4 separate regions of the Homo sapiens genome follow, and regions 1, 2 and 4 are each linked to region 3. Evidence: fine-mapped expression QTL. A gene starts in region 3. Each other region holds a variant in brackets. All regions are shown on one strand. Distances are from middle to middle. Region 1 overlaps HMCN2 (hemicentin 2). Region 2 overlaps PTGES (prostaglandin E synthase). Region 3 holds the start of HMCN2 (hemicentin 2). Region 4 overlaps HMCN2 (hemicentin 2).

The links. PIP is the estimated chance that this variant, and not a neighbour inherited with it, causes the effect.
Region 1: its variant is fine-mapped to the expression of HMCN2 in esophagus muscle (GTEx, PIP above 0.99).
Region 2: its variant is fine-mapped to the expression of HMCN2 in prefrontal cortex (BrainSeq, PIP 0.95).
Region 4: its variant is fine-mapped to the expression of HMCN2 in lung (TOPMed, PIP above 0.99).

What each region holds. Positions count from the first base shown.
Region 1 is chr9:130,319,105-130,327,205 of GRCh38, reverse strand. HMCN2 (hemicentin 2) reads right to left here. Exons shown (of 98, transcript NM_001291815.2): 16 at 7,511-7,711; 17 at 6,755-6,850; 18 at 6,303-6,430; 19 at 5,275-5,419; 20 at 1,499-1,611; 21 at 1,236-1,395. Among named protein-coding and RNA genes, the nearest start is that of HMCN2, 57 kb to the right of the region's middle. The variant G/A (reference allele first, on the strand shown) is at 3,401.
Region 2 is chr9:129,735,447-129,743,546 of GRCh38, reverse strand. It overlaps PTGES (prostaglandin E synthase), which reads left to right. Exons shown (of 3, transcript NM_004878.5): 3 at 3,687-5,198. The coding sequence ends at 3,936. Among named protein-coding and RNA genes, the nearest start is that of PTGES, 14 kb to the left of the region's middle. RefSeq lists enhancers at 350-850, 5,856-6,105. The variant C/T (reference allele first, on the strand shown) is at 3,025.
Region 3 is chr9:130,261,134-130,269,234 of GRCh38, reverse strand. It overlaps HMCN2 (hemicentin 2), which reads right to left and starts at 3,475. Exons shown (of 98, transcript NM_001291815.2): 1 at 3,098-3,475. The coding sequence starts at 3,356. It overlaps LOC124902285 (a long non-coding RNA gene), which reads left to right and starts at 2,346. Exons shown (of 2, transcript XR_007061817.1): 1 at 2,346-2,819; 2 at 6,195-8,101. RefSeq lists an enhancer at 1-587.
Region 4 is chr9:130,287,628-130,295,728 of GRCh38, reverse strand. It overlaps HMCN2 (hemicentin 2), which reads right to left. Exons shown (of 98, transcript NM_001291815.2): 5 at 703-874; 6 at 1-63. Among named protein-coding and RNA genes, the nearest start is that of HMCN2, 26 kb to the right of the region's middle. RefSeq lists an enhancer at 5,720-6,288. The variant A/G (reference allele first, on the strand shown) is at 3,229.

The DNA of each region.
Region 1 (8,101 bases), 58 kb before region 3:
CACCCTCGACCTTCAGGAGGTCCAGAAGGTGGATATGGCTGTCAGAAGGGGGGGAGTCCAGATTGGAGGTGGGACTCAGGTCCCAGGGTTTTCACTCAGTCCTCCCCTACCCACCTCCCCACCACCACCTTGCTCTGAGGACCCTGACCCGGTCCCTCCTGCCCTACGGTCTGTGCCTTCTCTGGCTTCTCTTCATCCTGCTGTCCCTTCCCCAGGGACATTCTGAAAGGCTCTGAACTCCTCCTCTCTCTCTACCTTCTCCCCTTGCTCATTCACTTATTCCCATGATATCAGCCACCAAAGAATGCACAGACCCTCCCTCTGGACCTCTCGAAGCCTGGTGAGGGATTGATGGCAATCTGTGCATGTCACGTCTCTCTCACCTTAAGCTGAAGACCCTTCGTCGGCAGAAACAGCATGGTACCCTTCCTTCCTCCCCGCTCCCCGCCTCCGCCTTTCTACCTTGGAGTTCATACAAGGAAGGCACTCGCTACCTGTCTGAGCAGCAACAATGAAAGAAGCTAGCCAGTTGGGGACATCAAAACCCATCTAGCCCTCCCGTGTTCCCCGTACATTTGTAGTTCAAAGGAAATGCTCCCCCATTAGGAATTTTTTTTTTTTTACAATATAAAAATATTGACTGTAAGGGTCTATGAGAGAAAAAGCCTGGCTTATACATTTGCTCACTCCTCCCAGACGTATTTACTGAGCGCCAGCCCTATGGGGAATGCTGCGGACGGCAGCGAAGGAGACAGGTCCCGCCCCATCTTCACAGCCTTTAGGGTCCTTTGGCAATAGTGGTACCAAAAAGCTCACTGTGTGATTAATTATTGAATCATAGCTGTGACGGGTGCCAGGAAGGGGATATTCCACAGTTTACAGCAAGGTGACTTGACCAGCCTGGGGGAACAGGGAGAGCTGAGATCTGACAGATGGGAGCAGTCAGCTGGGCCCAGAGGTGGGGGAACAGCATTCCAAGCAGAAGGAACTACATGTGCACAAGCCCTGAGGCAGGTTGGACCATTCCAGAAACAGAAAGGAGACCAGAGGGTCTGGGGCAGAGAGAGGCGGGGAGAGGGCTGCTGGGGACGCGGGTCCTGTGCAGAGCCACGTGTCTTTGCAGGACTTGCTGATGCAACAGCTTCCCTGCCTCAGGCTCCACAGGGCTGACGTGGGACTCTCTGTCTCCACAGCCACTGAGCCCCCTCTCCCAGGACAGGGTTGGCATCACTCACTGTTGACAGAAAGTCGCATCTCCTGGCTAGAAAAGCCCACGGTGTTGGTGGCCGTGCAGACGTAGGCCCCTGCGTCCTGGGCAGACGGCTGGGCGATGAGCAGGGTGCCCTCCTTACTCACATTGTAGTGGGGACCTCTGGAGGTCAGGGCATTGGTTTCCTAGGGCAGAGGCACAGGTGACATCGGCGAAGCCCACACCTCCGCCCCATGACACACTGGGCCTACCTCTCCAGTTATCCTCTCGGTAACAGGCACTGCTTACCTTGGTCCACGTGATGGTGGGGGCGGGAACTCCTGAAGCGACGCAGGGAAGAGAGGCCGCAACCCCTTCATTGGTGATATGGTGGGTGGCAGTGGGATGGATTCTAGGTGGCACTGTTATAAATAAACCAATGTCAAAGCCAAGGCTCATTGCAGCATCATTCACAGTGGCCAAAAGGTAGAAACAGCCCAAATGTCCATCAGCGATGCATGGGCACACAGCATGCGGTGTGTGCACACAACAGAAGAGTATTCATCCTTAAAAAGGAAGGCAATTAATTCCAGCTATATGACATTCTGGAAAAGGCAAAGCAGTCGGACATGGTGGCTCATGCCTGTAATCCCAGCACTTTGGGAGGCTGAGGCGGGAGAATCACTTGAGGTCAGGAGTTCGAGACCAGCCTGGCCAACTTGGTGAAACTCCGCCTCTACTAAAAATACAAAAATTAGCTGTGCATGGTGGTGCATGCCTTGTAATCCCAGCTACTCGGGAGGCTGAGGCAGGAGAATTGCTTGAACTGGAAGGCGGAGGTTGCAGTGAGCAGAGATTGCACAACTGTACTTCAGCCTGGGAGACATAGTGAGACTCTTGTCTACAAAAAAAAAAAAAAAGAAGAAGAAGAAGAAGAAGAAAAGACAAAACTAGATCAGTGGTTGCCAGGTTGGGGGAGGAAGCGATGAAGAGGCAGAGCCCAGAGGATTTTTAGGGCAGTGAAGCTACTCCAGGTGATATTGCAGTGATGGGTCACTGCATTTGTCCAAACCCACAAAATAAACAACACCAAGGCTGGGTGCAGTGGCTCACACCTGTAATCCCAGCACTTTGGAGGCCAAGGTGGGCGGATCACCAGAGATCAGGAGTTCGAGACCACCTTGGCCAACAGGGTGAAACCCTGTCTCTACTAAAAATACAAAAATTAGACCGGTACAGTGGCGGGCGCCTGCAGTCCCAGCTACCCAGGAGGCTGAGGCAGGAGAATTACTTGAACCCGGGAGGTGGAGGTTGCAGTGAGCTGGGATTGCGCCACTGCACTCCAGCCTGGGCCATAGAGTGAGACTCCATCTCAAAAAAAATAAAAAATTAAAAAACCACTAAGAGGGAACCCATCTAAAATAAAAATAAAAAATAAAACAAATAAACACCACCAAGAGGGAACCCCAATGTAAACTATGGGATTTGGAGTGATGATGACGTGTCTTCAGTGCTAACAACGGGCCGCCCTGGTGGGGGATGTTGACAGTGAAGAAGGCTGCGCGTGGCGGGAGCCAGGGTTATGTGGGAAATCTCTGTACCTTCCGCTGAGTTTTTCTATAAACTTAAACTGCTCTTAAAAGTCCAGTCTGTTTTTTTAAAAGGAATAAAATTCTGACACATGCTACACCATGGATGAACCTTAAAAACATGCTAAGTGAAATCACAGACATAGGAGGACAAATACTGTAAGATTCCACTTCTATGAAGTCCCTAGATACGCAAGTTCATAGAGATAGGAGGCAGAAGGGTGGCTCCCAGGGGGCTGAGGGGAGACGGGAATGGGGAGCTAATGTTTAATGAGGACAGAGTTTCAGTTTAGGATGATGAGAAAGTCCTGGAGATGGATAGCGGTGATAGTGTGAAATGTGAATGTACCAACACCACTGCACACCTAAACATCGTCAAATGATACACGTTATGTTATGTATATTTGACAATTTTAAAAGCTTTCAGGCCAGGCACGGTGGCTCATGCCTGTAATCCCAGCACTTGGGGAGGCTGAGGCAGGTGGATCACCTGAGGTCAGGAGTTTGAGACCAGCCTGGCCAACATGGTGAAACTCGTCTCTACTAAAAATACAAAAATTAGCCGGGCATGGTGGCACATGCCTGTAATCCCAGCTACTCAGGAGGCTGAGGCAGGAGAATC[G/A]CTTGAACCCGGGAAGTGGAGGTGGCAGTGAGCCAAGATCATGCCACTGCACTCCAGCCTGGGCAACAGAGTGACTGCGTCTCAGAAATAAATAAGTAAAATAAAAAAAAAAAAAGCTTTCAATGGGAGAATAAAACTGGAACAATCCCTGAGCCACCACTGCCTGCCATCGTCAGTTTTTTTGTCTTCCCCATACAGAAGGCAGCATGTGCTTGGGAACCAGCTGCGCTGATTCATTGCTCTGGGGCTCTGGATAAGCCACTTAATCTTTTGGTACCCATATTCCCTGATCAGCACAAAAGCTAATTTAACCCCAGTTCCCTGGTCGTCCCTTCTGGAATGGATAGATGAGCAGTGTTTGCAGAACACAGTGAGCTTAAAAACAGGTGTCACACCCACCCTGGGCACCACTCAGATTCGCAGGCTTGAACACGGGGTCTCTAAGGGGAGCGAGAGAGGGGTAACTAGGCATGGAGAAGCCAGGAGAGGAATCCAGAAGCCAGGGGCTCTCACGCTAGCACTTGGAGCTCCTTTAGGGAGGAAAATGGACTTCTGGACTCCCAGGTCGCCACAGCCAGCAGAGGCCCATAAATATTTGCTGAATAGAAATGAACTGAGCCAAGAGAGACTGAGCCTGTTCATGTTAGCCCCACAGAAGCGGCTGTGAGGGCACAGTGGGAAGTTAGGGGGTGAAACTGAGTGGAATCATATATAGAAACTAGCAGATGCCTGGCATGTGGTACACACTCCACCCTGGATGGCGATTTGGATCTGGAATTATGAGGGGATGGCACCTAGAATTGCACCTGAGCGCTCAACCCAGCCCTTCTGAACTTTGCACTCCCCTATAAAATGGGGAACGCGCGTTCTTCCCACTAATCCCTTGGGGGCTTTATGAAACAAACAAGAAAAAAGACGATATTAACATACTTGGTAAATCACAAAATACAACCAAATTTAATTTGAAATGTCTCATCTTACATTAAAAAGCACAGTGGTTCCAGTTGGGTGAATAAAAGAACCCAGTGCTGTGGGCAGGAGAGCAGTTGGGCAAGACACTAAAAATTCCAAAAACGTACAATCTCTGTGATGCAAAACTTAATCCACATTAATGGGTTTATCCTAAGGAAAGAATTGGTCACGTAGGTACGTGGTCACCTACAATGTGTAGGTACGAGGCTGTTCATACCCGGGGTGTGGGGGATGCGGTTGGGCGGGGGGAGTACAGATAATCAGGTAATTAGATAATCAGGGGACATGATCATCCCCTTATTAAACTGATGCCTCTGAATCTTAATTGACAGAAAACAGAACAGCCATAACACCTTGTCATGGAAACACTTAGGTGCCAAGACAATGACAGCATGTGATCCTATTTGGTTTTTAAATAGGTTTGTAAACAGGTAGATAGATTAGATGGATAGATAGATAGATAGACAGATGGATAGATAGATAGATAGATGGATAGATAGATAGATAGATAGATTAGATAGATAGATGATAGATAATTTTTATGTAATTTATAAGAACATACAAAGAATCTGTATGTAAAATGTATAAAGAATATATATTCTATGTATACATAGTGTATATATATACTACACATAGGTGTGTGTGATATACATATAGAGAGTGTGTGTGTATAGAGTATGAAAAGATACATGCCAAAATGCAAAATCTGGTTATTCTTAGCTACTGGTATTATGAGAGTATTTTTTTAACTTGTCAAATCCCTAATTTTCCCACAGAGAATATATATGATTTGCACGATTTTTTAAAGCAAATGCATTCAAGATCAAGTTACCTCTGCACATTCCCCCACCCCATCATGTTCCCTGCCCCACGACCACCACCTCCGAGACCCCAGGACTCACCCTGGACCACCAGCTCCACGTCCCGGTGCTGAGAGCCGGCCGTGTTGGTGGCCACACAGCTGTACCTCCCCGCGTGCTCCTGCAATGCTCGGTCAAGGTGGAGGCTGCCGTCTGCTCGGATGGAATGCCGGCTGCCAGGTGGGAGCTGGTGGGGGTGAGGAAGCACCAGCTTAGCCTTGGGCCTCACTCAGAGGCAGCTGAGAAAGAACCCTCGGGAAACTATGCTGCTCATCAGGCCAGTAGGGAGCAGCCAGGACTGAGAGCCCGGGGGCTCAGAGAAGGCTGAGGAGCTCTGTGAGTCCTTCCCGAGTGCCCAGTCAAGCCCTCCAGAGACCCTGCAGGGCTGGGTGGGCCTGACCCCTACATACCCTGACCCCACCTCTCCCTCGGCCAACTGGACCAGGGTGAGCCTGACCCAAGCTGGGCCCACGAGAGTCTCTCCTGGGAATGCAGAGTTGGGAAGGCACCTCTTTGCAGCCTGCAGGACACAGGGACCTGGTGTGTCTGAGACCAGGCAGAAGAATTGAGGAAAGGGAAGAGGTAATGAAAGAGTCAATAGGAGAGGGCAAACAGAAGAACACCAAGAAAATCAAATGGACGTGAACTGGTTGATAAGGCAACCACTGTGCGTTCAGCGCGCGCCGGTGTCTGGGGCAGATAGGAAACCGCACAGCTCACATCCCTGCTCTGGAATCATAAGAACCGGGGAGACCACTGCATTGAGACTGGGCCTCCACTAAATCCCTGCTCCCTGGCTCACAGCACTCCTGAGGCACACGATTGCCCTGCAGAGCTCCCAGGGGTCCAGCAGCCATGACCCATCTGACAGCCGGCGGGACTTTAGAGGGCAACAAACACCATCAGTGCATTATCAGAGAAGGTTCTGAAATGGGGCCAAAAAGAGGGTGGAAGGAAGAGGACACTCCCAGGCGGGGAAACAGCCAAGCAGAGATAGAGACGTGGCTGTGACAGCCTCCTTCTTCCCCAGGTGCCACCGCCCACCGCACCCAGAGGAGCCCGACACTCACGGGCCGGCCGTCCTTGAGCCAGTGCCTTTCCGGGAGGGGCCGCCCAGCTAGGACGATGCAGGGCAGGGACACGGGCTGCCCCTCCAGGACCCGGACGGTGGGGGCGCTGCTGGCGATCTGTGGCGGGGCTGTGGGGAGAGGAGCCGGTGTCAGCCACAATAGGTGCCCTGGGTGGTTGTCTGGGGGACAGAGGCTCCTGCTCCCCTCTCCCTCCCCAGGGAACTGAGAGATGCATCAGAATTGGGGATCCTAAAGGGTCACAGGACCCCCAGGACATTGTCCAGGACGCAGGGGCACAGGTGCTGCTCTTGGAGAATTTGGCTGTGGATTCGTTTGTTCCAACAGATGGGCCAGGAGAGGCTCCCTGGAGGCGCCCACGGCCTTGCTGTGCCCCCGGGGAGCACCTGCCTCCCACCTCCCACCTCCCACGGCCCTCAGATCCACCAGCGAACCGTGACCAGTGACGATGAGCCGGGCCTCAGCCTGGACCTTCCCAAAGACGTTTCGAGCTTCACAGACATATGGGGCCTGGTCTTCTGGGGCCACACCTGAGGGGCACGAGAGAGGCAGGTGTGACTGCCAAGGCACACCACAGCTGCAGCCCCCATGGGCTCCAGCTCCCCAGGTGCAGAGACAGCCCCTTGGCATGGCCTGGCCTTACAGAGGTTCAGGAGGGAAGGCTGGGATGGTAGAGAGGGAAGGGGTGAGGGACACCGCTGGACCTTGGAAGGTGAGAAAGCCTCAGTTTGCTCATCTGTGGAATGGGGGTAATTGGCCTGTACCTTGTAGTAGTGTGATGGGGCAGGGTTGACAAAGTGCCCGCCCTTGGGCCTGGCGTGTAGTAAAGAGTGGGTGGTAGGGTAGGCGCAGTAGTAATTATGGTAATCATAGTAGCTTATATGTGTGTGACAGCATGTGGCAAGAACTGTGCTAAGCACTTTGTACAGATTATCCACACAACAGCCCCATAAAGTGGCTGCTAATCAGCCAGGTGGGTAGTAGATTTCATGGTCGTGATTATGAACAGGGTCAGAGTAGTGGAATGACTTGGCCAGAGCCACCCAGCCAAAGTGTGACCGCGTATCAGCCTCTGCTCTATGGTCAGTGCTGGCGGTCAGGGTCCTGCTCTCGGCCACCTGGCCTGGGGTTTAGGGTGTCAGAGGCCATCCTGTCTCCCTGCCCACCCCCCACCAGCCCCAATCTCTTACTTTCAAAGAACAGCACTCCCGAATCCGGCTGCCGAGACCTACTGCCTCGCCCGGCCCCCAGCCTGAGTCCCAGAGGCTGGCCATCTCCGCGGCGCCAGGTGACCGTCGGGGGCGGGCGGCCTGTTGCCCGGCATGCCAAGAGGGCACTCCTCCCCAGTTCCACAGTGACATCCCGGGGCAGCTCCGTCAGCTGGGGCGCATCTGCAGGGAGGTGACCAGTCAACCATGCCCGGAGGCTGGACCTGCTCAGCGGCAGGTCCCCAAGGAACTGCCTCCCTCTCCTCCTCCTGTACTATTGCCCTTGTGAACCTAGGGCTCGACTCCTGTCCAGGGCTCCAGGGTCAACCTGTGCTGAGTGGCATCCACCCCTGGAGAGCTCTTGGGATGAGGCAGAGGGAGTGACTCGTGGGATGGTGCGTGGGGTCTCAGGGGCCTGGCTTTACCCCAGAGGTGCAGGGGAGGGAGCAGCATGCCCACTCCTGGCTGTGACACCTCCCAGGAAGCCCCTCCAAGGGGCTCTAAGGAGTGTTTCTCAGTCTGATTGTGACCCGCTGACATAGGAGCTGAGGGTGAGCCTTCATTTCTACCCCT
Region 2 (8,100 bases), 530 kb after region 3:
GTCACCTATGCAGGAAAATGCAGCTGGTGTGGAAAAGTCTGTGGAGGGTGAAGGCAGGCCTGATGCTGCAGGAGGCAATACAAGTCCAGTCTAGTAGGAATTTGCTTTGGGTGGCTTTTACCTTAAAAAAATGGTTATTATTTGAATGATGCATTTCACCCGAGCACGTCTGTGGTACGTGCCTGCCTCCATGTCTCTCGGTTTGGAGCCTGGAGGTGGGAGGAGGGAGGTGAGCTTTCTTCCATCATTCCTTGGTGTCTCCATTGCTCCCTGTCCCTGGCCACTGCGGCCTCGGAGGGGCCCCTCTGCGGTTTGAGACAGACCAGACGAGTGAGGGAGGGCTGGGCCAGCCCCAGGGGCTGACAGTCAGAGCTCCTGACCACCTCTCCTCCCACGCTGGTGACCGCTGAATTGCTGCCCAATGGCTGGAAATAGAAGGTGGGGCTCAGTCCCCGCTTTTTCTGCAAGGCCTGCTCCTCCCCAGCCTGCAGACATGCCAGGCAGAGCAGGATCCACGTCTGCCATGAACTTCCCGTCTTGTTCCTCCTTCCCACCCTGTGTTCCCCAACTTCTTTCCTTCACCCACTCTTCAGGGTTTGGCTATGTTTGTGAACTATCTGTACTATGATTCTCTTAACAGCTTTCCAAACATTGACTTACTCTTTTTTTTTTTTTGAGACGGAGTCTCACTCTGTTGCCCAGGCTGGAGTGCAGTGGCGCGATGTTGGCTCACTGCAACCTCTGTCTCCCGGGTTCAAGAGATTCCCCTGCCTCAGCCTCCCGAGTAGCTGGGACTACAGGCGCCTGCCACCACGCCTGACTGATTTTTGTATTTTTAGTAGAGATGGGGTTTCACCATATCAGCCAGGATGGTCTCGATCTCCTGACCTCGTGATCCGCCCGCCTCAGCCTCCCAAAGGACTTACTCTTAAAATATCAACACATACTTTAAGGAATAGCTGAGTGAACGAGTTGCATATGCTGGTTGTGCTTTTCCTGAAACTTTCAAATAAACATTACAAAACTCCTCATCCAGGTGGCACTCCCTTGTGAATCACTTGTGACAGGCAGACCTCATTTTGGGACATAATCAAAAATGGGTTTTCCAAGGGTGTCCCTCTAATCAGCCTGTAGGGGGATGTGGGTACCCACAGCTCAATTGCCAGAGGACGGAGTGATTTTTGTTTTGTTTTATGTTTTTTTTTTTTTTTTTTTTTTGAGACAGAGTCTCACTCACTCTGTCGCCCAGGCTGGAGTGAAGTGACACGATCTTGGCTCACTGCAACCTCCACCTCCCAGGTTTAAGTGATTCCCTGCCTCAGCCTCCTGAGTAGCTGGGAACTACAAGCACACACCACCATGTACAGCTAATTTTTTTTTTTTGTACTTTTAGTAGAGATGGGATTTTGCCATGTTGGCCAGGTAGGTCTCAAACTCCTGTCCTCAAGTGATCCACCAGCCTCAGCCTCCCAAAATGCTGGGATTACAGGCATGAGCCACTGCACCCGGCCAAGGATGGAGTGATTTTGGAGGAACACCTATTGCCTTTCCTCATCAGTCCTGGTAAGGGACTTACTTGACAGGGAGGTGGCCCCAGTCTTTGGTTTCTCCCTCTCTTTTATTTTATTTATTTATTTTTTTGAGAGGGAGTTTCCCTCTTTTTGCCCAGGCTGGAGTACAATGGCATGATCTCAGCTCACTGCAATCTCCACCTGCCCGGTTCAGGTGATTCTCCTGCCTCAGCCTCCCGAGTAGCTGGGATTACAGGCATGCACCACCATGGCTGGCTAATTTTGTATTTTTAGTAGAGACAGGGTTTCACCATGTTGGCCAGGCTGGTCTCGAACTCCTGACCTCAGGTAATCCGCCCGCCTTGGCCTCCCAAAGTGCTGGGATTACAGGCGTGAGTCTGTAATCTCCCTCTTATGTCTTCCCTGAGGGCAGTACCCCAGGATCTATCCAGAGCCAGCCTCTGACAGACACAGGCAGGCCACAGTGTTCCCCACCGCTGGGTGAGAACTGCCCTGCCACAGACTTGCTTTCCTTGTGTCTGGGTTGCAAGGTCAGGATCTGGGGGAAAAGGAGAAGAGGGGTTCATGTCAGTCTCGGGATATGCGGACCCAGATGCCAGGTGCTGTGTCCTGAGTTTGGCCTGAGAAAGATCTAGGCCCTGCTGGGTTTACAGGAGTTTTGTACACTCAGATTGAATTCCTCTCCCTCTCTTATCTGCCTCACTCCCTCTTGTGCACCGCACTGTAGCCATGGGCTCACCTTTCTGCACATTGAACATGCTGTGCTTATTGTGACCTCAGGACCTTTGCACACACTGGTCTTCCTTCCTGGAATGCTTTTCCCCTGCAGGGCCAGCTTCTCATCATTCAGGCTTCTGCACATATGTCTCCTTCCCTGCCCACCCCCACCCCAGGCACGCTGCAGAGCTTCCTACAGTGTGGGGTGGCCAAGCACTCCAGGCCCCCTCTTTCCTTTTGGTCAGGCCCACACACCATCGCACTGGCCCAAGAATCGTCTTGCCAGTGAGAGGGAAGAGGAGGACCCTGCAGCGGGTCCCCACTCAGTGCTGCTAGTCTGGGCCTGGCCCGAGGAGACGGTGTTATTGGTGGAATGTATGTCAGCAGGAAGGCCCGGAGAACATGCTTCTGTTCCTGCACCTCACACGCGTGGCCTGTCCTTGGGGGAGGTCATGCCCTGGGCACTGAATTCCTGTTTATTTGAGCTTCCAATGTGGCAATCTATGGGTTTAGTTGCTCATTCAGTCTCTAATTTATGGGACTCAACCTCCCCACCCTTCATAAAGGAAGCCGGCCATTAGTAGGAGTCTGGAAAATGTGAACCAGCAGAAGTAGGTGAGTTTTCTGAGTTTTCTTTCTTGGTCATTTATTTATGGTGGGGTTATACAGAGCCCCTCCGCCCCCACCACACATATGCACATGCTTGATTCCTTTCAACAGAAAAAGAGGCAGGAAAGGATGTGTAAAATGAAGAGCTTCACCGGGGGCTGGCCAT[C/T]GGTTGGCTCCAGTGAGTGGGAGCGGATCTTGTTATGATTGTCCCTGAAAGGACAGGTGGTAGTTAGATTTAGGGGGAAAAGGAGACAGAGCCCGGCATTCATTTCAAAGGCCTGCTCTTGGGCTCTAGCCCCTTCTACTCGGGAGGGGCCCAGGAAGCTGCATTCAGAAGGAGGATGACCTCAGGCCTGACTCAGAGAAGCCCTGCCCTGGAGGTAAAGAGCACAAACTCCAGTCAGAACTCGGTTCCAATCCCAGCTCCTCCACTCGTTGGCTCTGTAAAGCACTCAGCACCTCTGAGTCCCACTTTTCCTGCCTGGTATCCAAGGGCTAGAGAGGAAGGTGGGGGAGAGTATGGCAGGAGTGGGGTCCCGGCAAGCCATAGAGGTATGGTAAGAGCATCCTGGACCAGTAGCCCTCTGACTCCCAGCCCATGACGTGGCCTCGCTGCCTCAGCTGCTTGCAAGCATAAGCTTGGAGCTGCCTTCTTCTGGACTCTGGGGTATCCATCTCCTTGACCTGGCTGTGAATGGATTTGAGTGTGTGATATGCCTGAAATGACCCCCAGTGGGTCAAAGCACCCCCAGCTTCCATGACACTCTCAAAAGGGCCTATGGCCCCAAAGCTAATACCTGGCTGACCGCACCCCTCTTGTCTCCCCAGGGCCCACCGGAACGACATGGAGACCATCTACCCCTTCCTTTTCCTGGGCTTCGTCTACTCCTTTCTGGGTCCTAACCCTTTTGTCGCCTGGATGCACTTCCTGGTCTTCCTCGTGGGCCGTGTGGCACACACCGTGGCCTACCTGGGGAAGCTGCGGGCACCCATCCGCTCCGTGACCTACACCCTGGCCCAGCTCCCCTGCGCCTCCATGGCTCTGCAGATCCTCTGGGAAGCGGCCCGCCACCTGTGACCAGCAGCTGATGCCTCCTTGGCCACCAGACCATGGGCCAAGAGCCGCCGTGGCTATACCTGGGGACTTGATGTTCCTTCCAGATTGTGGTGGGCCCTGAGTCCTGGTTTCCTGGCAGCCTGCTGCGCGTGTGGGTCTCTGGGCACAGTGGGCCTGTGTGTGTGCCCGTGTGTGTGTATGTGTGTGTGTATGTTTCTTAGCCCCTTGGATTCCTGCACGAAGTGGCTGATGGGAACCATTTCAAGACAGATTGTGAAGATTGATAGAAAATCCTTCAGCTAAAGTAACAGAGCATCAAAAACATCACTCCCTCTCCCTCCCTAACAGTGAAAAGAGAGAAGGGAGACTCTATTTAAGATTCCCAAACCTAATGATCATCTGAATCCCGGGCTAAGAATGCAGACTTTTCAGACTGACCCCAGAAATTCTGGCCCAGCCAATCTAGAGGCAAGCCTGGCCATCTGTATTTTTTTTTTTCCAAGACAGAGTCTTGCTCTGTTGCCCAAGCTGGAGTGAAGTGGTACAATCTGGCTCACTGCAGCCTCCGCCTCCCGGGTTCAAGCGATTCTCCCGCCTCAGCCTCCTGAGTAGCTGGGATTACAGGCGCGTATCACCATACCCAGCTAATTTTTGTATTTTTAGTAGAGACGGGTTCACCATGTTGCCCAGGAGGGTCTCGAACTCCTGGCCTCAAGTGATCCACCGGCCTCGGCCTCCCAAAGTGCTGGGATGACAGGCATGAATCACTGTGCTCAGCCACCATCTGGAGTTTTAAAAGGCTCCCATGTGAGTCCCTGTGATGGCCAGGCCAGGGGACCCCTGCCAGTTCTCTGTGGAAGCAAGGCTGGGGTCTTGGGTTCCTGTATGGTGGAAGCTGGGTGAGCCAAGGACAGGGCTGGCTCCTCTGCCCCCGCTGACGCTTCCCTTGCCGTTGGCTTTGGATGTCTTTGCTGCAGTCTTCTCTCTGGCTCAGGTGTGGGTGGGAGGGGCCCACAGGAAGCTCAGCCTTCTCCTCCCAAGGTTTGAGTCCCTCCAAAGGGCAGTGGGTGGAGGACCGGGAGCTTTGGGTGACCAGCCACTCAAAGGAACTTTCTGGTCCCTTCAGTATCTTCAAGGTTTGGAAACTGCAAATGTCCCCTTGATGGGGAATCCGTGTGTGTGTGTGTGTGTGTGTGTGTGTGTGTGTGTGTGTGTGTGTGTTTTCTCCTAGACCCGTGACCTGAGATGTGTGATTTTTAGTCATTAAATGGAAGTGTCTGCCAGCTGGGCCCAGCACCTCGTCTTGGGTTGCGCGTTCCTGGTGTTCCCTGCTGCCCAAGCTGGCCTGATGCTCCAGCGCGCTGGGCGTTCTTGCCGGTGACTGTCTACAGCCAGTTTGGCGGGACAAGATCTCTGGCGCAGACACCAACGCGCCCTGGCTGGGTGTTAATCACACAGCAAGCAGCAGCCTCCTGCCTCCCGTTGGGGCGGGTAAGGTGGCATCTGGCGAGGTGAGCCAGGAGCACCCAAATCCTGCCCCGGCCAGGTCACCCCTCCCTGCGGGGCTGCCCCGCCCGCGGGCTGCCATTATCAGCTCCGTCAACCAGGACACGGAGACTCCAGGAGGCCAGCGCCCGGAAGTGCGGGGCCAGGTCTGAAAGTCGGGGCTGCCAAAGTCCCTGGGCGGAGCCCCTGTGCTGCACGGCCTCACTTTCCCTGAACGCCCCCTCCCAGCACCCCGAGGCCGGAGCCCCTCTAACGGATGGGACCTGCCGTGCCGGGGGTTCTCCAGCAGCGCAGGGACCCCAGGCCCCGCCAGAAAGCGCCGTGAGGCCCCGGGTCCCGTTCGGAGCTGAGAGGGGAAACACTGCCCCCTGGTGGTAAGGGGACGCCTCTGTTTTTGGGCCGCGGCGGCTCTCGGGAGAGAAACGGGAAGGGCGCGATCCAGTATTGAGCACCTACTGCTTGCTAAGCGTTGGGCTGGGCATACTAGTTGGATTTTTTTCCAACTTATGTCTGTAATTCAAGCACTTTGGGAGGCCGAAGTTGGAAGATCTGAGCCCAGGGGTTTGAGACTAGCCTGGGCAACAGAGCTAGATCCCTTTTCTACCAAAAAAAAAAAAAAGAATTAGCCGGGTGTAATGGTGCCTGCCTATGGTCCCAGCTACTCGGGAGGCTGAGGCAGGAGGATCGCTTGAGCCTGGGAAGTTGAGGCTGCAGTGAGCCGAGATCCCACCACTGCACTCCAGCCCGGGCAACAGAGGGAAAATGTCTCAAAAAAAAAAAAAAAAAATCCCCAAAACAATCCGAGGCAGGAGGGATTTCCGCTTTCTAGATGAGGAAGGTGAGGGTTTTTAGATGAGAGAGGCAAGGTTCACAGGAAGGAGGCTTGTAGGGGGTGTCTCCTCACAGGGGAGAGGTGACTTGCCTGCTGTCCCTGGGCTCGGACAGTGTAAGGCCAGAGGGAGGACAGATCCCAGGGCAGGGGCCATCCAGGAGGCGAACCCAGCGTGCATTCTTGTTGTTGTTGTTGTTGTTGTTTGAGATGGAGTCTCACTCTGTCACCCAGGCTGGAGTGCAGTGGTGCCATCTCGGCTCACTGCAACCTCTCCTTCCCAGGTTCAAACCATTCTCCTGTCTCCGCCTCCCGAGTAGCTGGGATTACATACAGGCATGTGCCACCACACCCGGCTAATTTTTATATTTTTAGTAGAGACAGGGTTTCACCATGTTGGCCAGGCTGGTCTCGAACTCCTGACCTCAAGTGATCTGCCTGCCTCAGCCTCCCAAAGTGCTGGGATTACAGGAGTGAGCCACCGTGCCTGGCCACAGCAGCGTGCGCTTTTATATTTATATTTTCCTTCCTGGGGAAAGAGGGGCTCTGTGGGCAAAATAACCTGCTGGGAACCCACCGGACCCAGGTGAGCAGGGGCATCGGATGCCCATGGCAATACTGTGAACCTGGGGCGTGGGTGAAGGAGGCGGCCCCCACCACACTGGAGCCGCAGAGACCACGAGACCATGAGGTCCCCTGCCCGGCACCGCCCCTGTTCTGTCGGCTTGTGAGTGCCTCCTCAGGGTGGGGTGGTGCCCGATGCTGGGGTGGCAACCTCATCCTGCCCCCCGTCCCCATGCATGCAGCTCCAGCCTGGGGTGGGCGGGCTCCGCAGGACGGCGCCCGTGATGACCCCAAGGCTCAGCGCCCTGATGGAGGCAGATGGGGCCTTTTAACCCCTGCTGGGGAGCGGCTGCCTGGGGAGGGGGCAACTCACCTGCGGTGGGGGGTGAAAGAGCGGTTTTAAGGGGACCATCCAAGCCAAGAAAGCAAGGAGCAAAGAGAAGAGCTCAGCAGCTCTCCCCAGACCCCTCCACCTTGAGCTTGGGAAGTGGAGGGCGGTGGGGAAAGTTGGGGAGGAAAAGTGTGAGGGTTGATGGTGTGGAGGGGAGATGTACGGAGGGGCGTGGGGGTAGGGGGAGGGAGTGGGGATGGGGGAGGGATGGGGTATGAAAGGGAGGCGTGGGGGGTGTGGAGAAGGGGTGGATATGGAAGGGAGGGGTAGGGGTGGGGTGGGTGTTGGGGATGAGTGTGGGGGAGGGGTGGGTATGGAAAGGAGGGGCAGGGGTCGGGGTGGTTGTGGGGGAAGATTGGGACATGGAAGGGAGGGGTGGGGTGGGGTGGGTGTTGGGGATGTGTGTGGGGGAGGATTGGGGTATGGAAGGAAGACAGGGTGGGGTGGGGTGGGTGAGGGTGTTGTGGGAGTGGTGCGTATGGAAGGGAGGCTTGGGTTGGGCTGGGTTGGGGGTGGGTGTCGGGGAGTGGTGGGTATGGAAGGGAGGTGGGGGTGGGAGACAGATGGGCATAGAAATGAGGTGTAAGTGTGGGAGGGGCTAAAGGGATCAGCAGTGTGGGGTCACGAGCCTCTGGCCCTTATCAGGGAGTCTGGGGCTGTGGGTCACGCCGGGATGGGCTTGGCATGGCTGGCTTTGTTTCCTAAGAGGACCTCTGGCTCTGCCGTGGGAGGGCAGGGGGTGTGGACAGCCAGGCAGTGGACACAGTGGGCAGTGGCATGGCTCTTGCTTCCCCAGTGGCTTGGACAGTCCCCTGGCTACTCGCCCAGGAGCTGGAGGACCCAGGTGCGGGGGAGAGAAGAGAGGGGCAGTACCCAGGATGGTGTCTGGGCTGCT
Region 3 (8,101 bases):
TTTCTAACTTTTCTACTCTGGGAACATACAATTTTTAATTTAGAAACTGTAAAATTTCCGAAGCACGGATCTTAGTTTGTCTCCAAGCAGGAACAGTCTAGAACCGCCACGATTTGCCCCGCACCCGCCTCTTGGGGTTTAGGAGAGGGGCTTACTTTAAGAAAACCCTCCCGCTGTGCAGCTCTGGGAGCTGGAACAAACAGCTACAACCCGTTTCTCAAGTTCCTCTTCCACCAAAGGGGATTCTATTTGCTGATTCAAAAGGCACAGCCAGGCCTAAATCACAGTTCCAAACTGCTGCTCAGAAGCCCTCGGTGGCTGTTCACAGCCCATAGAAGGAAAAGGAAATCCAAGTCCGCCAAGGCATCAATCGGCCCTGCACTCACGGCTGTGTCCAATCTTGCCCTTCCCCACTTTCCCGCTCCACTCCTCCCGTGCACACCCAGCTCCCACACACACCTGTCCCTCCACATCAGCCCTCCTGTCCATCCCCCGGTCCTTACCCAGCCAGCTCCACATGCCCCAGGGAGTCCTCTCTCCCTGCTGTGTTCCCAGCACCTGGCATCTGCCAGGCAAACGGCCAAAACCCAGTAAACATTCACTGATGTTCTTCAGGCCCTACTCACAGGCTGCTTCCTCAGGGGGGGGTCTTTCCTTAGCCCCCTTCCTTGCTTACTGGCCCATGGCCAGGAGTTGGCACCTGAGCCACCACATGTCACTTTCTACTCCCCACCTGGCCTGTCCCAGAGGGCTACCAGCCCCGTGGAATGAACCATGCCCCTTTACACTGTGAGCCTCCCTGGGCTCTACACAGATCAAGGGCTCCATGGTGCTGAAGTCTCCCCGACGTCTGAACCTGGGGGTGTCACTCGGAAGCTAATTTGGGGAACCAGGATGGAGAACTGGATTTTTGTTTCATAGAGGATGGAGTGAGGGGGCTGAGCCTGGTGAAGGCTGGAGAACTGCCCACCAGCTCAGTGCCCAGAGAGGAGAGGGAAGAGCAGGGGTGGGAGGTGGGCTTCCTGAGGCTCATGGCCACAAATGGGGCAGCGAGGACAGTCTCAGGAACCCTGGTCTGGGCTTCAGGACACGACATCTGGCTCTGAAAGGCTGCTATCCTGCTGGGCCACTGGAGCCACATATTTCAGAGACAAATGTGGGTTATGATTCAGGAATGACGCCACCCTGGCAGGTGGCCTTGGGAAAGTCTCATCAGTGTCCTGAGCCTCAGTTTTTCCAACTGTAAGATAAAGGGGTAGATTCAACGATCTCTAAGCTCCTTCAGTGTGATGTCTTCGGAAGCCCCAGAACAATTCAGAAAGTGGGTGAGAGAGCTGGGGAGACGGAGGGTGACCTGTGTTCCAGCTTAAGTGCCAGAACACACTTCACAGCCCACCTCCTCACAACCCCCAGCTTGGTTGCCCCCTGACTCCAAGATAGAAGCTGTCCATCTGATGTTCCTAGAAATCTTTGTCTAGAGCCTTGGCTTCTGAGCTTTGAGCTGCAAAACCCTGTGGTGCCCAGAACTCCTGGAAGCAGAGGGGCCTCCAAGCCCCTAGACCACAAACTCAGCCTGAAGCCTACGTAGAACTATGTCTTCCCACTGTTTTGTCCATTTTCTAAGAACCTGTAATGGTATTGTGATTAATAAATGCAAATCCCTCTGCAAGGACTTGCTGGCTCATACAGCCAATGGCCACCGTCTATTTCTTCAGCACAAGAACACTCTGCAGTACAATTTAGCAAGGAATCTGTGCGTGTGTGTGTGTGTGTGTGTGTGTGTGTGTGTGTGTGTGTGTTTTATTTGGGGGGGTTGTTTGTTTGTTTGTTTGTTGCTTTATAAAGCTATCCTTGACAGAGGGGTGAATGATAGAGAGATGTGATAAAGCAAAATATGACTCAGAGGCTCTCGGTGGGCATAGGCGGTTCCATGTATGTTTCTCCCCATTTTACTGTAAGTTTGAAATTTTCCATTAAAAAACGCTGGGGAGGCTGGGTGCAGTGGCTCATGCTTGTAATTTCAGCACTTTGGGAGGCCTAAGTGGGAGGATCACTGAGGCCAGGAGTTTGAGACTAGCCTGGGCAATACAGAGAGACTCCATGTCTATAAAAAATTTAAAAATCAGCCAGGCATGGTGGCGTATGCTTGTAGTCCCAGCTACTTGGGAGGCTGAAGCAGGAGGGTCACCTGAGCCCAGGAGTTCGAGGCTGCAGCGAGCTGTGATCACGCCACTGCACTCCAGCCTGGGTGACAGAGCCAGACCTTGTCTCAAAAAAAAAAAGAAGTGTGGAAAGCAGTCCTGCTCCTCGCCGCTGGGAACCTGCAGCTCACTCAGCAACCGCTGTCCCTGGGACTCTCTACAGTGGAGCGCCCAGGGACCCTTTCAAGGGCGCCCCTAACACTGAGCTGCAAGGCAGGGGGTTAAAGGGGAAGCAGAGGTGCAGCGTGCAGGGAAGAAGGAGTTAGGGCGGAACTCAGCTGTGAGAACACAGCAGGTGGAGGCCACGGGGCCAGCACACGAGAGGCGCTGCCCTTTCCCCAGGGAAGACAGGCGAGGGGACAAGACCAGCAAGGGTGAGTCCGCTCCCCACTGCAGGGTCCGTGGTGGACCCCATTTCGTCTCAAGGCCTGCCTCTGGGAGCCATTCCGGTCTCCAAGCCTCCGCTGGGAGCGAATTCTAAGAATTGGCCAAAGGAAAAGCCCTGCAAAGGCTCGTAGCGTCCCAAGTCCTCGAGAGGAATGCCTCATTTCAACATCTCAGCAAGTCTGGGAGGCCATCCTCACCATTTCATAGGTGGGGCCGGTAAGGCGCGGGAAGGTGAGGTCACTTGCTGAAGTCTCACAACGGCGCGGGAGAGCAGGGAGAGCAGGTTCCTTGAGCGAGGGAATGTTCCAGGGGGGTGGGAGGGAAGGGACAGCTGCAAGGACTGCCCAGGTGGCCAGGGTACCCGCAGCGCGGATATGCCGAGAAGGCGCGCCCGCCAAGCCGCGGCGCAGCCCACGACGTCCAGGTGCGTTCGGGGCCAACTGAGGGGGTCAGGCAGGTGAGAGCACCTCGAAGGGGGCGCCCGGCGGGCGGGGGTGCGGGGGCGCTACCTGGGTCGTGGAAGGGCACCAGCGCGTAGTTGGCGATGGCCTGGCTGCGGCGGCTCAGACTGCGTTCCAGAATGCGCGAGGCGCCATCGATCACCTGCATCAGTTCGTCCCACATGGAGCCGGTGACGTCGAAGACGAAGGCCAGGGTGGCGTCCCCCGTGGTGGGGGGCATTACCGTCCCGGGCGCCCCGGCCACTGCCACTGCCACTGCCGCAGAGACCGCGGTCAGCAGCCGCAGGAGCGGCGCCCCGGGCATCATGCCGAGCGCGGCTCTGGCTGCGGGTGCTGCGGTGGAGGCGCAGGTCGGAGCTAGCCGGCCGCCCCGGTGCACACGGCGGCTGCAGGCAGTGCCTTGCTCCGTCGGGCCGCGGCCAGTGCGCGAGGGATAGGGGCGCGCGGCGGGTCCGCCTGCTGGGCGCCCGAGGCGGGTCCTAGAGCCCACCCCGTTCAGGGTCACGGCCCGCCTCCTCCCCTCCCCCAATCGTGACTCAAACTTTCCCAGCCCCACTGTTCGCCCGTCCAGATCCGAGGTTAGGGGAGGACGCGGGGCGGAAGGCAGAAAGGAGCTGGGGCCCCGGCCAGGGCAGCGAGGGATGGGGACGCGCAGGATGCAGTGGACACCTGCGCCTCCCGCCGATGGCGCGCCGGGGGCGGGAGAGAGGGAGGGGGAGGCGCAACGGCCCCAGTCTCCCTCCAGCCCCAACTCCCCCCACCCCTGCCTGGCCAAAGCGGACCCTGGCTTCTGCAGCTCCCTCCACCCAGTGCTGCGACAAATCCCCCCACCCCCGCCCCCCAACACACACACAAACTTTGCCATTCGTTTTCCTTCTGCCAGGTGGGCTCTGTGCTTCCCGGTTATTGCAAGCACTACTGCTATTATAATCAACAAGAAGTCTTGTTGTTAACCATGTTCTAAGCATTTTCAGTTATTTGCTTGAAGACTGGCTGCAACCCTAGAATGAAATACTAACCCTAAGCCCATTTTACAGAGGAGCAAACTGAGGCTCAGAGAGGTGAAGGCATTTGCTCCAGGTCACTCAATTATCAAACAATGAAGACAAGATCAGAGGCCAGATCTAGAAAGACTCCAAAGGCCCAGGGCTCTGCTGCCTCCCTTGTGTTAAAAGACATTGTCACACGGTCACCTGGTGACTCCAGAGGATGAGGGCTATCCTCCTGCCCATCCACCTCCCCAGCCCCATGGGCTGCATGTGTGGATGCTGCATCCCACGTGAGGTGCTGCCTGGGACTGGGTTCAGCCTCCTGCTCCGGGCAGATCCAGATGGGCTCAGGCACGGCTGCTTATCTCAGGCTGTGCTCTCGGGACCTGTTTCCAGGCCTCTCTCCCCGCTGGCCTATAAGCCCCTTGAGGGCACGGCTAGGCCTTGGTCTACACTGGATGAGCCCCTAGTTCCCAGCCCATATCCAAGCACATGGTGGGGAGGCACTAATGTTGTCTGAATAAATAAACCGCAGCTTTTGTGGAAATGCCGGGTTTTGAGTCATGTGCGAGAAGGTAGCTAATCCCCTCAATCCCTCCTCCGAGAACACCATGCTCCCAGAGACATGGCTGAGGGCTCTAGGTCTGTGAGTGATGGGGGGCGCTTTCTTGAGCCCCTGTCCCTGCAGAGTCGTCAGCCAGGAAGCCACCCCTCCGCCACGCTCTTCCTTTCCTCTTCGGTCTCAGCTCAGACCCCACCTCTGAGGCTGCTTCTGAACCCTTGCCCTGCAACCCACATTTCTCTGAGCCCTGTCCTGGCTCTGACCACACCGTACAGCCCATGTCATGTCTGGGGCCCTGCCTCTCCCACTCTGGCTGTGAGTTCTATGGCAGAGATCCTGTGCCCGGCACATGCTAGGTGCCCAAGGAAGGTGTGCCACCTGAATGGGGCAGCAGGCATCAGAGAAGCTTGGCAGCTGGGCATTGGCCACAGCGGGAGGTAGCACACATCCGCAGGGACTCTGTTCTAGCCCAGAGCTGGGGTCCGAGGGAAATGGTCTCCCACGGAGCTACCAGTCTCGTGGAATATAGTGCCACCAGGTGCCCAGACCCAGCAAGGGAGTGGAACTTGCAGCCAAGTTCACAGGAAGTTGAGTCACCTGCACTTCTTAATGCTGGCTCTTTAAATCTCCCTGGGCTAAGTCTGTGATAACCCCCAGAGTCTGGGCAGGGCTGGGCCAGCTGTTGGAGAAAGAGGTCCCAGCTGTGGGAAGGCAAAAGCCAACAGGAGCCAGGAACCAGGCAGGACTCATAAATGGTGACATTTCAGGCACAGTGCAGGGAACATTTGGGGACAAAGGTCCTTCGGTCATTCACACCACAAACATTTGCTGAGCCCAAGCTGTGGTCAGGCACTCTGCTAGGCAGCGAGAGCAGCAGCGGGGGGTGGGGGGATGAAGATGCAGAAGACATGCTTCCCACTCTGGGGAGAAGAGACATGTAAACAAATAATTCTAAGTCAATGAGGTAAGTGCTAATAGAGGAATTACCAAGCACTCTGGGAACTCAGAGGAAGGAGTGACTGAGCCTAAGAGGTCAGAGGAGGCCACAGAATGAGCCTGAGAAGTCTTAAGGAACAAGCAGGGAAGGGTATTTGAGGAGCAGGAACAGCATGTGCGAAGGCAGGGAGATCTGAGACACCCACTGACAGGTAGCCCTATGTAACCAGCCAGGGGATGGCAAGCTGAGAACAAAGACTAGATCACAAAGGACCTCTGGTATCTTGCAAATGCACTTGGGGTTTTTCTGAGGACATTGGGGAGCTATTGAAGAATGCAGGCCAGAAAGCCATCTGATTTGATGTGCATTTCAGACAGGTCACAGCAGAGAAGTTTGGAGGGTAGACCTTGTAGATGCCAGGAAGCCACAAATCTACCCATCAAGGATGTAAGGGCAAAGCTGGCCCCAAAGAAAAAAAGCAAGATACCTTTCCCCGAGCTGGTCACCGGGGGCAAAAGGAATCATGGATTTCAGTCCTGAAACAGCCTGGCTACCTGGAGCAAAGCCCTCCCCTCCCGGGAGCTTGGTCTCTTCATTCATAAAATGATTCTGAGACGGAAGGGAGGCTAACAAGATAACCTCTGATGTTTCTTGCAGCCTTACCACTCTGGAACCACCACCCCGGTCCCTCAGAGACAGAGGAAGGATGCGAGGGGAAGTCTAGGCTCATCTTGGCACTGCTTCCCCCAACTGCCAGGGAAGAGAGGCTTGAGCAGGCACCTGTCATCTGTCTGCCATAGCTCCATCAAAGAGTAATGTCTGGCCTGACCCCAATGCCCATCCAGGATGACTGGAGGTGCTGCCCCAAGCACCATCCTCTCCGAGTGCTCGGGGCTTCCCAAGAATGTAACTATGGTCGCATAGCAAAAGTGAGCAAGGCTGCAGTGCAGCAGCCCAGAGAAAACACAACTGAACCTCATCAATCAATTTCCATCCCACCACCTTGACTTGACTGCAGGCTGCCTGGGAACCCCACACTTCTCCTCTCTTTCCAGAAGAAGCGGTCTCAGCGGAGTTGTTTCCTAACGTAGCACATTTGTTGCAGACAGCTACAGAGAGCAAAAATATGCTATGGGCCATCCACTTAAAGGAAACAGGCACGGGTATTGCTCAACCTGCCGAGTTCAGCCCTGGCTCATGAACTCAGTTCCATGCACTGCGTCTGCACTGGGGATCCATGTGCAGAGGGGCCAGATCAAAACCCCGGACTCTGAATACATGGTCAGTGCACGAGAAATGACTTCTCCCTACCAATCGCCCTTCCTTACTCTTTCCTATTCCCTGCTCCCCAAATGCCTTCTAGTCTTGGCCGCATTAAATCTGTGATTCTAGGCTGGGCGTGGTGGCTCACGCCTGCAATCCCAGCACTTTGGGAGGCCGAGATGGGCAGACCAGCTGAGGTCAGGAGTTTGAGACCAACCTGGCCAACATGGTGAAACTCCGTCTCTACTAAAAATACAAAAATTAGCCAGGCATGGTGGCAGGCATCCATAATCCCAGCTTCTTGGGAGGCTGAGGCAGGAGAATTGCTTGAACCTGGAAGACGGAGGTTGCAGTGAGCGAAGATCGCACCACTGTACTCCAGCCTGGGCGACAAAGCGAGACTCTGTCTCAAAAAATAAAAATAAATAAATCTGCAATTCTAACATCCCCCACTCACTTCATCCCACCCCAGCCCTCATCCTCAGGGAATCTTCTCTGTTCCTCTGAGAGAGTAAAAATACTAAGGGTGGAGAGGATTGGCCAGAGCCTCGGGGAAGGCCAGACCCCGTACTGACCCCCTCCTCAGGTGCTCCCTCAGCAACCTCTAACGTCAACATCTCCTCTTCATGGAACAGATGAGACAACTGAGGCTCCGAGAGGTGAAGTCCTGTGTCTGGACTGGGCTGTGTGTTGGCGTGTGCCTTCCCACAAATCCTGTGACCCACCTCACCACTCCATGCTGCCCCAGAAACATGGGGCAATGATTTGTACAGGAATCCCAGCAAGCAGAGCTTCTTCTAGAACTAACCAGGAGCTCGGTGTCTTCCTCAGACACTCATAGTCCTCTCGAGCAATTCCCCAGGCTGGACTCTGACTCAAGCTTCAGACATTAAGCACCTTTGAAAGGCTGGAAAGTCACAGTCTACTCATATGTCACCAGAAGGCCTGGGCAAAAAAAGGAGGTAGAGAAATAACCCCGGGAATGAAGCAGGGGTTCTGCCCTCCCAGGGCCTGAGAATTAAAAACTGTTTCAAATCCTTGTTTCGTTCCTCTAGGAAAAATTAAAGAATTAAGCGAGGGCCTGGAAAACAAGGCTAGCAGGAAGTCGGAGGAACTGACAAACAACTGGGAAGATGAAGCTACCGAGGATGGGCTGCAGGAGCCAAGAAGTTAGAATCTGCAAGCCTGCGCCGAGTGCTCCAGTCAGCCAGCACTAGATGATTTACTGCTGAATCCAGCCCCTCTATGGACCAGCCTCCAAGTCACATGGACCGTAAGGAATGGTTTGAGACCATCCCAAG
Region 4 (8,101 bases), 26 kb before region 3:
CCTTGGCCGAGTCAGGGATGTTGAGAAGCACGTTGAGGCCCTCGTCCTCCTGCAGGATCCTCCCTGTGGAAGCCCCAAGGGCTGCTCAGTCCCTAACCCTTTGCTGGGGGTGGCAGGAGCCCCGCATGTCTCCAGGAATCCACAGTACACCAAACACTAGCCTCAGTCTTCCCGGAAGTGACAAGGGGTCTTGGTGGTCCTCGGCCACTGCCTCACTCCACGCTCCACCCTCAGGGATCCCCAGGGGCAGACTGTGTGCCCGGCCTCTAGACCTGGGTGCTCATGACATCCTCAGAACACCATGGGGTCAGGTGACCATGTCTGAATCACACTTCCCCTGACTCTGTTGACCTTGATGAGCACTCAGCACCTGGAACCCCAGCTTCCCATCTGTACAATATGCTACAAGTTCTCACCACCATGAGAATCCACTGGGGTACCACGGAAAAGACTTGGGGAGAGTCTCACGATGCAGGGACCGCCATTACTTTAATTCCCATCGCCGGTTGCTATGGCCCTCCTGCTTCCTCGCACACCATGGGCGCCCTCTCTCCACTTCGTGTCCCCCCCACCCCATATTTCCCTATTCCTGGAGCCTCATGTCTGAAGCCCTGTCACCCTTGGTCTCTTTCTTTGTCCCATCCTGGGCTTCCACCTCAGTCTTGGGGCCAAAGAGGAGGCCAGCCCCGGGGTGGTCCATACCCAGCGGATCTTGGACTTCAATCTCAGGCCCTGGCCCACTCAATGAGATGGTGACCTCCTTCAGGCTGGGGTCAAAGGGGAGTCTCCATGTGTGCTCCCCCTCCTCCTCGTGGTCTGTGGACAGCAGGTGCACCTTGGAGGCCTGGATCGCTGACTCCACCCACTTCAGCACCTGGAGGCAAGTATGAGGAGCTGATGCCGGCAGGTGCCCACAATGTCTTCCCCCTCCCATGGATTTTAGGCAGCATACAAACTTTCCAGGTCGCCCAAGGCCACCCCACTCCTCCATGTCCAACACCAGGCCCAATTCACACATTGTGACCCTCCTGGCTTCCATAGGCTCCAAGCTGTGAAGCCTGAATTGAGGCATTCGGAGGACTCAGCACAGAGGGAAGGAGCAAGGGTGTGTCCCTCTACTGGGAAGACTCTTCCACACTTCTCCACCTGGCCTCCTTCCACAGCACCCACACTTCCTCCAGGAAGCCCTCTTGGTGCCTCTTACACACAATGAACCCTGGAGATCTGGAAACTCCCCCAGACCCATGTAGTTCATGACTGATTATCCCAGGGGCCTCCAACTGTGCTCCCACCAGGGCGCCACGTTCCCTAAGCAGGACTGAGAGGCACTGCTGCAAAGACTTCAGGTCTCTTTCCAGTCCACAGAAGTAAGGAATTGCTGGATGGATTTTTGCAATATTGAGAAGACCTAAATCCTTGGTTTCTATAATTGATTATTCATTCTAAAGTCTTACATCTTTTGGACAAGTGCCACTGAGAATCAGATAAAAGGTAAGGACCCTTTGCCTGGGATATCATCCTATCCCTTAGGTACACATTTAGGGTATGACTTCGGGAGGTTCCCAAACTCCCTCAGAGATACTCCCCCTACCACAAACTGAGCACAAACTTATTTAGTTTCTCCAAATCCTGACCATGGCCTTCAAGACCCTAGGTTCTATGGTCCTAGGCACCTATGCCAACCCAAGGTCACTGTGCCACTGCCTCCCCCTGCCTGCTACACTGGACCCCACCCCTCCCGCAGGCAGCCCCCACCCATACATGCCGTGTTCTTTGCAGGAATGCCCTGCCTCCTCATCGACCATCTCCTTGCTATACTTCAGCTCGCTGCTTGAAGAGCCCTCTCTAATCCTGAAAAGGCTCTGTTCCCTGATACATACTATTTTGCAGCAATCTGCACTCCAGTCATTCACATTTATTGGATTCGGGCTTCTCATCCTTACTGGCCTGGGATCTCTGTGGGGGCAGAGAACCTCTGCTGTGCCCATGTGTGTCTCAGCCCTGAGCTCACTGCCAGGCACAGAGTGAGTGCTCAGGAGGCACCTGCTGGCTGTGTGAGTTCAGTAGGACATGCATCTCCTGGGCAGAGCTATCAGGCTGACCTCAAGTCCACCTCTCAGGCACCTCACTCCATACCCCTCCTCTCCCCAGCTCACACCTCCTCCTTTGCAATAGCCAAGTCACCTAGATTCCAGCAAGGAAACCAAGACAGAGGGAGAGGAAGGGAGCCCCTTCAAGTCTGGACCTTCTCTTTCCAGGCCAAGTTATCTCAAAGAGCGTCCATCCTGTGCAAACCCTAAAACTGAAAGACAGTGAGCTCAACCATAAAATCGGTACCACAACCACAGAGAGAAAAGAACATCTCCAAGTGAATTCCAAACCCGGCGGTTCAACTATCCTTTCTCAGTAGGAGGACAACAAGAACCGCAAAAAAAAAAAAAAAAAAAAACTTTAGTGAGTAGATTTTATTTGGAAGAACTATCAGCACTGTGATTTTGAACCCATTTTATATATCTTGTTGGATAAAGCAAATAAGTAAAGATGTCAATATTTTCAGAATCAAGATTTTTTTCTTATAAACAAATGTAAGAGACAGCTGCAAGTATCAAATCAAATGAGCTAAGTAAAAGATCTACAATGTGAAATTTGAATTGGAAATATCAGTATAAGTTCTCCAGATAGAGATAGATGATAAATTGATAGGTAGGTATATAGGCAGGTAGGTAGGTAGATAGATAGATAGATAGATAGATAGATAGATAGATAGATAGAGCAATTGATCCAGAAGCAATGATGGCCCAAAGTTTCAATAACAATGATCACCACCAGTACCTAGATCTTGGTTTCTAAATACCATTCCCCACGAGGGTTCCTTGGAGAAGTGGCTAATTCCAGGTCTGGGGCAGGCAATTTATAAGGTGAGCCTGGGATGATGGGTTATTCCATAAAACAAAGAAGTTCTCAAAGACAAATAGGGACATATCAAAAGGACATAGGAACCAGCTTGAAGGAGCTCCCACTGACTAAATTTGGGACAACTTGAGCCCAAAAGAGAATAATAACTGTGCTCAATTGAAACACATTGAATAATATAATCCATGTGCACATAATGATACTCAAAAAAGAGAAAGCAAAATTCAAAACAGTAAAGCCTCCCTTGCCACAACTGAAGTGACTCCTTAATCGAAGAGAAAGAACTAAGTGTGATTCCGTGCCTTTTCGACAGAA[A/G]TTGTACTTCAGAGAAACCAAATTATCCGTCACTTTTGATGCATAAAAGTTCTTCTTCTTGGAAGAATGCCCACTCATAAATGTGGGAGGAATGATGCAGTTAGGAAATCATCATTTTGCAACCCCTAATGAAATATCATTTCAGGCAAGAGTCCTCAGTGGATGCTAAAACTGTTAGATGAAAAGTTGATGGGAACTAGATGTCCGCACAGAGCGAGAACATTACCCACTTGAGTCATAAAGGCAAAAACGCAGCCCAACCATACAGAGAGCTGGCTGTCGCCACCCTCACCCAGTCATCAAACTTATCATCAGTAATAGTAGGATGCTCAGACACTATTTGCCTCCCGGTGTGATACAACAGAAGACACACTCAGCACCAACTAGGAAATATTCCTGCCAAAAAGTTCAGCCTTCATCAAATCAGACCTTTGGACTTATCCAGTTTGAGGGAAACATAGGGGATTAAAAAAAAAAAAAAAGTGAATGCCACCACAAGGAAATAATCAGAAGAATCCAGAACATGGGACAGGGTACAAATCCATGCCTCTTGAACAGCTTAGTGTCATAAAAAAAGAGCTGATGGCTTCAGACCAAAGAGGACTTAATAGACATAACAACCAAAGGAAATGCACAGCCCTTGATGAAATCCTGATTTGACGAAAACTGTGATCAAAGACAGTTTGAAGACAGGGAAATCTGAACATGGGCTATGTATAGAATGATACTAGGAAACTCATTAATTTTATTAGACGATATTGTGGGTTATGTTGAAGACTATGTTTTTTCAGAAATCCATGCTGAATTATTTATAGATAAGGTGTCATGATTCAGCAAAAAGTATAAAGAGATAGATAAAGCAAGTCGAGCAGAAATGTTAACAATTGTTGAATCTAGTTGGTAGGTGTGTTCTTTTTACTTTTCTGCATCTTGGAAATTCTTCATAGTAATTTTTTATTAAAGTAAAGTCATTTAAAAATAACAAGTATGCGACCGGGCACTGTGGCTCATGCCTATAATCCCAGCACTTTGGGAGGCCGAGGCAGGCGGATCACCTTAGGTCAGAAGTTTGAGACTAGCCTGGCCAACACAGTGAAACTCCATCTCTACTAAAAATACAAAAATTAGCCGGGTGTGGTGGCAGGCGCCCGTAATCCCAGCTACTCAGGAGGCTGAGGCAGGGGAATTGCTTGAACCCAGGAGGCAGAGTTTGCAGTGAGCTGAGATCATGCCACTGCATTCCAGCTTGGGTGACAAGAGCAAAACTCCATCACAAACAAACAAACAAACAAAAATCAAGTATGCAAGTATGCTGTGACTTTAATGTACACCTGAACAATCACAGTGGTATACTGTTGCTTGCCAACTCCAAGCTAAGGGAAACGCTTCCTGGAAAGCTGAAGAAGAAAGGCAAAGCCACATTCAGCCCCAAGTAGAAAAAGGTCTGTGATTGATTAGCAATGTCTGCCATGAATATGGGTTTTAAAAGTGGTGTCTTGCATGCTACTTATTGGTCATTCTTGCTCTAAATCATAGTCCTTCAGCTCTGCTTACCATGTGATCTTCTACAAAAAGGGAAAGGAATCCAAAGAATTGGAAAATGAGGTTTTTGGGTTTTTGTTTTTTTTTTTTTTTTTTCAGACTGAGCTAGAAGATATGTGCCTAGAAGTTTATGGCTAGATTTCAACTATCACGTGACAAGAATTCTGTATTCTGAAAATGCATCTGTTTTTATAATTGGAGCTACTTCATTGTTGTGTCTTGCCTAGCTTTCTAAGTAATGTGTCTCTTGAAAAGGTCCCACCTGTCTTAGCCAAGGAATGAGGACAAGGTTCTTCGTCCATGTGGGGGTGGACAGAAGGGAGCAGTGGCTGAGGACTCCCAGCTGGAGAGGCCCACAGAAGCCCGCCGAACATGTGAGGCAACTCCTCCAACAGCAAAGAAGCAGGTCCGTTACCACCGTCCCCTTCCCCCGGGCCAGGCCTTGTCAGGGGTCAGGAGGGAAGCATCACTGAGCAAAGCACCAGTCGACAATTACCCAGAGGAGTGACACCCGCTACTGTGTCGTAACTGCTGTTACAAGCTTGTTCTAGGATGTTCTGATGGAGGGAAGATGCTCGGCAATTCAGACTACTGAACCACAGAGAGGGCTGGGACACGAGGCAGAAAGCCAGTGACCCACAGGATGGCCTGCCCTGTAAGCATATCCCCACTTGGGAGTTGGGGGGCTGACCCTCTTGCCCACAGCAGGGCCAGACCCCCCTGTAGGGCCAGGCCTGGGGACATTGCCTTCTAGACCTGTGGTGCCAGGGCTCCAGCGCAGAGAGCCTTCATTAAGCCAGCTCAATGTTCATCTGGTGAAGGCAATGGCTTCCAGATGTTAGAGGGGCTGGGGGACCAGCGAGCCTGCGATGCACTGGGGCTCATCTCTGTCACCCATGGGGAAGGAACGAAAAATCTGGCAGTGCTCCCCCAGCCAGATGGCTGCTGCTCGACCCTTCGCAGCAGATAAATCATCCCCGAGGATCCTCCCAGAACATTTGACAGCCAGGGCGGCTGAGGAAGCAGGGAAGGAAAGCCAGGGGGCGAATGGGCCCCCGAGGCACAGATGAGAACACAGAGGATGGGGCTGTGGGTCCTGGGCCCTGTGCCAGGAGGCTTACCGTGAAGTGACAGAGAGAGAACCCTAGTCAGGGGGTTTTGCCCCTTGCCAGCTGGGCACCCTGGGCACTCGCCCTAGCAGAGAATCTTTTTCAGAGAGAGTTCCTAGTCTTCAGGGGGCATTGATGGAACTGAGGGACATATCCTGGGCTCCACATTGAAGCACGGGGGGGTGGGATGGCATTTAGCCATCGTGAACTCTTACCAAGGGCTTCCTCTCTCCCTGGCTACCATCTCACCAGGTAGGGGCTCTCGTTAACCCAACTGCACACAAGAAGAAAGTGTGGCCCAGAGAGGTTGAGGACTGTGCTGGCAGTCACCCTGCAGGTAAGTGGCAGGGCTGCGAGGTCTGAAGCCAGGCCTCTTGCCCCGGAGTCCAAACCCTAACCACCTCCCCCTGGGAGGGGTCCAGGATGAGGTCATCTCTGGGCCCCTGCTGATGAATTTAATCAGAGCCACCTGGTCAGACGCTCCCCCAGCAGCTCCCCCTCACCCCCCCATCTTCCGCCCGCCCTTACTGTCTTAGAAGGACACCTTTCTCCTAGCAGATGCACAGAACACAGGCAATTCACCCTTTGTGCCTGCTGGTGCTGAACATGGGAAGGCTCCCAGCCCCCAGAACCAGCCGTGCTGGAACGTGTGAGTTGTGGGGTGGGGGATGCAGAGGAGAGCAAGATGCCCAGTGCTCTCCCAGGAAAAAAAGACAGAGGGGCTTTCCCAGGCACGGGGGAGCTGCAGGACAGGCAAGTTTGCCCAGCTCTGCTGGCCCCACCCCCACCACTGTCGGGGCTAGTGACAGTGCGTTGAGCTGTGTCTGCCAGGGAACTTGGGGGAGGCTGCTCTGGCACAGCAGGTGCTTGGACTTGTCTAAGTCTTAATCAAAAATGCACACCTTTGGGGCAGGTTCAAGGGGCCACGTTGCCTGCCTCTGACATGATCCCCTGTCTGTTTAAGGATTATAAAAGCTCCAAATTTCCCCTACCAGGGAGAGATCCTCACCTTCCTTTAATTACCCTGCAACCCCAAGGGGTGATCCAGGTACTAGTGAGGCCAACTTCACAATTGAAAAAAAGTGAAATGCTCCAAAGCAGTAAGCCCTAGCTGTGACTGATGGCCAACTCTGCACCAGCACTCAGAGCTGCACCTGGCCCGGGGCAGGAGCTCAGCAAACAAGGGGAAGAGAATGCATGACGCCTCTTGGGCTGCACTGGATGCACTCTGAAGAGGTAAAAGGATTAATGACACACGCATAGTTTGGAGCCTTTTGCAACTTCTGGGGAGTTCTCCCAGCTGGAGGCCCCTTGGCTAGGGTGAAGGCACCGTTCATCTCTCCTGGGAGGGTGACCGCAGCCCTGGCTGTCCAGCCACCTTCCCAGGCTTGCCGAATGTCTGGGAACATCTGGAAGAGGCTATGTCCAAGGCATTAAGCTAAAGAACAACAGAGCTCCATGCCCAGGAAGGAGAGGGTTCCAGGCCCCTACTTAGAGGTAGCCAATTCTGGCCACTGGTGGTCCTACTGAGTCAGACACATGCTGCCCGGCCAGACTGTCACAGCAGAAAGCTGGCACCACAGCTGGGAGTAGTGGATTTGCCCAGGTTCCCAGCCTCAAGGAAGAGGCTTAGGACAGCCCAGCCTCACACCTGGGCGAGTGGCCCCCATCAACCTGCCCAGCTGCCCTGTGTCTGATTTGCCCCTGGCAGGAACCAAGTTCCCATGCAATTGGCCAGATAGTTCTCCCCAGGAGCAAGAACCAACCCATCCTTCCACTGTAAAATGCCTCCCACCCTTGCTTGGGTGACTCGGTGCGAGGGTAGGCTGACATGCCAAAAAATGAAGCCTAAAGTGTCGCAGAGAACCATAAACGCCATCTGTCAACAGGGAGTTAAGGCACGCTAATCTAAACACACTCCTGGAGATAGCTCTCTGCAGCTCGTAAATATACACACACAAAACCCTCTCCCAGAGGCAACAAAGCAGGACTGGCTCAAGGCCATGGCCAGCCTCAGACACCCTGCCTCTCTCTCCTTCCTCTTACCAGGGACTTGAGCACAAGGGACCCTGTCCATTCACCAGCTATTTACCCAGCACCTGCTCTGAGCTGGGAAATGTAAAGTGCTGGGAAGGCTGTGGCCATCGGGACTCACAGCCCAGTCCCTGGAAACTTCACGGCCTAGTGACATTTAATAATCGCACAGTTATAAAGTTATGATT